Linked DNA regions of Homo sapiens. The protein of the gene in region 1 purifies or fractionates together with the protein of each later gene. This does not show direct contact. Each region holds a gene or a part of one and is shown on either strand. Other genes may lie near its edges.

Evidence for each region.
Region 2: the proteins of FMO5 (region 1) and ERICH5 purify together in Homo sapiens (affinity purification with mass spectrometry; one large-scale study listed by BioGRID and IntAct). This does not show direct contact.

The regions. Positions count from the first base shown.
Region 1 is NC_000001.11:147,218,785-147,222,614, forward strand, and holds part of FMO5 (flavin-containing monooxygenase 5), read right to left. Parts: intron 1-3,830. UniProt on the Homo sapiens protein: Acts as a Baeyer-Villiger monooxygenase on a broad range of substrates. Catalyzes the insertion of an oxygen atom into a carbon-carbon bond adjacent to a carbonyl, which converts ketones to esters.
Region 2 is NC_000008.11:98,091,176-98,094,276, reverse strand, and holds the end of ERICH5 (glutamate-rich protein 5), read right to left. Parts: intron 1,057-3,101; coding exon 944-1,056; 3' UTR 668-943; downstream 1-667.

The DNA.
Region 1 (3,830 bases):
ACTTTAAACCTTCGTAAATATTACTATTTCTTCATCTGGAAAATTTCCTGTCCTTCAAGAGTTACATCAAATGTCACTTCCTTCAACAAGACTTTTCTAATTTCTCCAGAGAATTAGATTCCGCTATTCATCCTCCAAGCTCCCAAAACTCTCTGTTCATATTTCTATAAAGATAACTTAAACACACTATATTATCAGGCATTTGTTTCCATGACTGTGAGAAACCCGAGAGTAGCCATATCCTTCTTTAAATCTCTATTATCAGGACCTGGTGTGTACTGGATGTGCAATAAATGCTTTGAAATGAATTAGTTAATGAATTATGGAAATTGAATTTGGAGACACCAAAAACTATGATTTTGAAGTCTGTGCAGGAACATTAAAAATGGCGTATGATATAATGAAGTACAAAGGGAACTGTAAAATTAAATTTACATTCTAATCACCAAATATGTAATATTATGTCTATCTATGGGTATATAATTATACTTGTATAATCGCTCCCTGTTAGACATGTCTCTTTTGAGTATACTTCATTTATTTGAAATAGAAAAAAATGTGAAAATACAGAAAACCAGTCGACTTATTAAGGCAGTAGGATTGCTTTCTTTTTCTTTTATTTTTGTTAAAATGTTGTTTGTACAACACCCATTCATGATGAAAACTCTCAGCAAACTAGGAATGGAGAGAAACTTCCTCAATTTGATAAAGAACATCTACAAAATACCTATAACCAACATCATACTTAACAGTGAGAAATTAGACACTTTTCCCCTAAGACTGGGAACAAGGTAAGGATGTCCTCTCTCACCACTCCTATGGAACATTGCACTAGAAGTCTTAGCTAGTACAATAATAGAAGAAAGAAAAGTAAAGGATATTCGGATTGGGAAGGAATAAAGATAACTTTTTATTTGCAGATGACCTGACCGTCTATGTAGAAAATCCCAAAGGATTAAAAAAAAAAAGTAAGAAAAAAAGAAAAAAACTCCTAGAGTCAACAAGTGAGTACAGCAGGGTTGCAGGATACATGGTTAACATACAAATGTTAATTGCTTTTTTTTTTTTTTTTGAGACAGAGTCTCGCTCTATTGCCCAGGCTAGAGTGCAGTGGCACAATCTCGGCTCACCACAACCCCTGCCTCCCGGGTGCAAGCAATTCTCCTGCCTCAGCCTCCGGAGTAACTGGGACTACAGGCGCATGCCACCCTGCCCAGCTAATTTTTTGTATTTTTAGTAGAGATGGGGTTTCACTATGTTGGCCAGGCTGGTCTCGATCTCCTGACCTCGTGATCCACCCACCTCGGCCTCCCAAAGTGCTGGGATTACAGGCATGAGCCATCGCACCCAGTCATTTGCTTTTTTATATACTAGAATGAACAACTGGAATTTGAAATTTTAAAAACTCCATCTATAGTAATACCCCTGAAATTACATACGTAGGTATAAACATAACAAAATATGTATAGGATTTATAAGCATGAATTAGAAAACACAGATGAAGAAAGTCTAAGATTTAAATAAATGGAGAGATATTCTGATTCATAGACTAGAAGATTAAATATTGTTAAGATGTCAGTTCTTTCCAACTTGACCTATAGATACAATGCAATCTCAATCAACATCCCAGCAAGCTATTTTAGAATCCAAGCTAACACATGGATTCTAAAGTTCATATGGAAAGACAGAAGGCCTAGAATAGAAGACTTTGTCCTTAATAGTGGGCTGTGCATAGTGACTTTGTTCCAAAGAGTATAGTATGGCAATGGAGAAAAAAGGAGCAACTTTACAGTGTGGCAAAAACTGACAAACGCTATTTCAAGCCAGGACATCAAGGTTAACATCAATAGTGATATTATCTAGGGTTTTTATAGTTTTAGATTTTACATTTAACTTTTTAACGCATGTTGAGTTGATTTTCATATATGGCAAAAGGAAGGGATCCAGTGTCAATCTTCTGCATATGGCTAGCAGTTATACCAGCCCCATACAATTTATCCTTGTAACAAACTTTCATATGTACCCCCGAACCTAAAATAAAAGTTGGAAAATGAAAAATAGAAAAGTGGAACAAACTTACACTTCAACAAAGATATATTGTGGCATATATTGAATGCTAATTTCTTACTTATAATAACATAAAATGAGTTTTAAGTTTCCAAAAAAAAAAAAAAACAGTGGGTATAATGTGGATAGTATGTACCCTTGATGGGAGGTGAGGAGAATGGCACCTTATAATATTCCTCCCCAAAAGTCATAACCCCAATTTAACCATGAGAAAAAAATAAGATAAATCCCAACTGAGGGATATTCTACAGCATACCTGGCCCCAAAACTATCAAGGGCATCAAAAACAAGGAAAGTCTAAGAAATTTCATAGCCAAAAAGAGCCTAAGGAGATATGACTATTAAATGTAATGCAGTATCCTGGATGGGATCCTGGAACAGCAAAAGGCCATTAGGAAAAACTGAGTAAATCTGAATAAAGTATGGACTTCAGTTAATAATAATGTATCAATATTGGTTCATTCATTATTTAAAAACGTATCATACTAATGTAAAATGGGGTAACTGGACATGAGGTGTACTGTAATTCTCTGTATTATCTTCCTAATAAATTTTGTAAGTCTAAAACTGTTCTAAAATTAAAAGCTTATTTAAACATGTTTGTACATAAGTGTATATATTTTTTAATTAAGGTAAATTAATGAATGGCAAGGTCATTTTGGAATTAAGATGTTTGCTGTATGGAGAGCAGGTGAGGCATGTTCCTAACTTCTGAATTTCATTTCATTTATTCATTCAAGAGATATTTAGAAAGTCCCTCTGTAATAAAATACTTTATGAGGTACTGATAAATGCAAGTCTGTATGTGTATTCCAAAAGTTCAACGTTTACAAAGAGTAGAGCCATCCTATCCACAGCAGGTCTGTTGGGATCACTGAGTGAAATGAATGACAGATCTCACCTCTTTGAGGTACTCCTATATTTCAACTCTTTTTCAAATCACTAACCACAACAAGTGTTATCCTGTGTCAACAACATCCTTCAAATCCTTCGAAACACCTGATTGGAACTTAGGTAAGGTTTACCACTGTGCCAATCCACTGCTTTCCAAAAGAGTGAGCACAGAGCAGTATTGGGTTAGTGAGTAGAAGAAAAAGAAGCTTCTGCTCCTGCATTTTACAATTTTCTACCATTGATGAATAAATCTTCTCTCTACAAACTCTATACACTGATTATATTTCCTACCTAGGCACAAGGCTCACACATTTGAGCAGGAAGTCTGTGTAAGAAAAGAGAGGCTAGGCACGGTGGCTCATGCCTGTAATCCCCACACCTTGGGAGGCCGAGGTGAGCAGATCACTTGAGGTGAGGAGTTCGAGAATAGCCTGGCCAACATGGTGAAACCCCATCTTTACTAAAAATACAAGAATTAGCAAGGCGTAGTAGTGCGTGTATAATTTCAGCTACTTGAGAGGCTAAGGCATGAGAATCACTTGAACCCAGGAGGCAGAGGTTGCAGTGAGCTGAGATCACGCCACTATACTCCAGCCTGGGTAACAGAGTGAGACTCTGCCTAAAAAGAAAAGAGAGAGAGAGCAGGGGATGGAAGTTGGGGAAATTGGAACTGATGGGATTGGAAGAAGTAATAAGGACAGAAGAAAGGAGAAAAATTTAAATGGGAGGAATGAGGACAGTTTGGGGCTTCTGTTCCTGTCAGATTTTCAAAATCCCATGGAATAGAAACTCTCTTTGAACTGTTGTCTGCACATTGGAATCATCTGGGGAGCTTTAAAAAATGGAGATAGTAGAATACATGCTTGGCT
Region 2 (3,101 bases), on another chromosome or scaffold:
ACTGCACGCCAGCCTAGGTGACGGAGCAAGACTCCATGTCCAAAAAAAAAAGAAAAAAAGAGTAGAGCCCAGGAATAGACTCTACATAAGCAACAATCTAGGTTTTAATCCTTGCTGTTTATTGTCTCCAAAATACATTTAAAAGTGAATTAATTAAAAATACTTTTAATGTTATTCAAAAGGATAACACCAATTGAAAAACCTCATGTGAGTATAAAATCAACAGCTGATTCGAAATGGCACATGGAAAATGTGTAGCCTTTCATCATGAAAAATGTCTAACCTTGTGATAGCACCAGAGTTGCAATCCTTTGCAAAGGATTCTGTTAACATATTTAATATTCCATGATAAATAAGGATCTGTGGTAGTTGACAAGCTTAAAGGAGAGCAAATGTGTAGATGACATACTTCCTAAGGTTCTTATCAGCTCTGAATTCTATAACAAGACAGAAATATTTGGTATAGTTCATCCTATTATTTTTGCTGTTGTTCATTCTCATTCCATCATGATTATAATTGTGTGACTTTATTATTGTGAGTTCCCTAAAATTTGCTAACTCCTTTCTCTAGCCACTTGTACCTAAAGGTTTACACTTTCTTTTTAGGGTCTCATTTTCTATACTGAATGGCCCCATGGCCACAATGAAGAAAGTCACCCTCACACTCTTAAATAATCACATCATTTTTATTGGCTTTGGTTTTTATACTTTTAAATGTATAACCATTCTAAGTAGCTAAGAAAACTGTTCATGGCTTAGCAGTTTTGCAGAACAATATAATCAAGAACACAGAAACATCCTTCTCATGGTTCCAACAGTCTCTCTATAACCACACTCCTTACAGAAAACATGTAAATGTAGAAAGATAAGATACATAACCACAAGCTTCACTACCATTTTTGTCTCCTCTATGATAACACACTGTGTCGGTTCACTCTTCTATCTATGTGGCTGCTGAAAGGTCCACCACTTCTCCTGTTTCTTCTTCTTTGGTTTCAGCCCCTTCACTCACTTTCTCATTCTCCATGTCTGTTTCCACCTTTTCCCCTGTCTCACCTGGAAAAGTAACCAAAGGAGATACTAAGAGACATTTATTTAGAATTAACATAAATTATCCCACAGTTTGTCTCCAATGGGGGCAGTTCTTGATCTTCAGGTCTAAGCAGTAAGTTTCTCTGGGGGTATCAAGAAAAGTAATCATCTCAGCTGGGCACCGTGGCTAACACCTGTAATCCAACACATTGGGAGGCCAAGGAAGGCGGATTGCCTGAGGTCAGGAGTTCAGGAGCCTAGCCCAAAGTAATGAAACCCCGTCTCTACTAAAAATACAAAAATTAGCTAGGCATGGTGGCACAAGCCTGTAATCCCAGCTACTCGGGGGGCTGAGGCAAGAGAATCACTTGAAGCCGGGAGGCAGAAGTTGCAGTGAGCTGAGATCACGCCACTGCACTCCAGTCTGGGCGACAGAACGAGACTCTGTCTCAAAAAAAAAAAAAAAAGGAAAAGAAAAGTAATCATCTCGATTCTCTCAGAGCCTCTGAATGGCTGAAATGTCGAGTCAATTAACATCTCGAGTCTTGGCATACTCTTATGAAAGAAATGCTCTCTATAAAATCAGGATGCAAAATTACCAAAGAAATGGTGGTAGAACAGATTATAATAGAAAGTTCATGGCCAGGTGTGATGGTTCCCACCTGTAATCCCAATGCTTTGGCAAGCTGAGGCAAGAGGATCACTTGAGGCCAGGAGTTCAAGACCAGCCTGGGCAACAAGACCTCCTGTCTTTACAAAATATTTTTCAAAAATTAGCTGGACAGCTGGGCGTGGTGGCTCACGCCTATAATCCCAGCAATTTGGAAAGCTGAGGCAGGCAGATTGCTTGAGCCTAGGGTCTGAGACCGGCCTGGCCAACATGGTAAAACCTTGTTTCTACAAAAAATACAAAAATTAACCAGGGATGGTGGCGCCCAGCTACTCAGGAGGCCGAGGAGGGAGAATGGATTGAGCTGGGAGGCAGAAGTTACAATGAGCTAAGAATACCACTGCACTCCAGCCTGAGTAACAGAGCAAGACTCTGTCTCAAAAGTAATAATTTTTTAAAAGAAAAAAAAATTAGCCAGGCATGGTGGCACATTCCTGTAGTCCTAGCTACTTGAGAGCTGGGGCAAGAGGATCCCTTCAGTCCAGGAGTTGGAGATTATAGTGAGCTGTGATTGCATCACTGCACTCCAGCTTGAAGATCTTGTCTCGAAAGGAAGGAAGGAAGGAAGGAAGGAAGGAAGGGGAGAGAGAGAGAGAAGAAAAAGAAAGAAAAAAGAAAGAAAGAAGAAAGAAAGAAAGGAAGAAAGAAAGAAAGGAAGAAAGAAAGAAAGAAAGGAAAGAAAGAAAGAAAGAAAGAAAGAAAGAAAGAAAGAAAGAAAGAAAGAAAGAAAGAAAGAAAAAGAAAAAGAAAGAAAAAGAAAGTCTAATTTGTATCTAAATCAAAGGGTGGTCCAGGGGTGCCCCTAAACCTGTCTGGCTTGGCCATTATGTGTTTAAAAACAATCGTTAAACATTTACAGACAGCCAACACTAACAAGTCTGGACATTGCACACACTTGCAGGAAACCCTGTTTCCCTGAGAAGTTGGCTTTGGCAACATTGGCCCTAGTTCCATGGCTGGAGCTGTGCGGAGCTTCCTCTTTTGACAAGGCTGTGCTCTCCTGTTTGCCAAGGTCCCCTGGGCTCCCACAGTATGACATGTGTCCTTCACCTCACTCATTTTCAGTATCCTAGGCCTAAAGACTTTTGAGTTTGCCAATCCTGATGTAAAAACTACCTGCTTTTATTTGCCTCTCCCAAGTTGTTCCCAGGGCCCTTCTTACACATTCTTAGGAAAGCAGTTCCCACAACAGACTATGGTGATGCACGCACATCCTGCCTTCCCACACTAGACAGTGAGCCCCTTGAGGACAGAGACTATCTCTTCCTCAGTCTGCATCTCAGCACCTAGCATATGTTTAGGCATGCCAAAAAATGCTGAGTTAATAAATGAAAGAATTGGCCAGACATGGTGGCTCATGCCTGTAATCCCGGCACTTTGGGAGGCCGAGGCGGGTGGA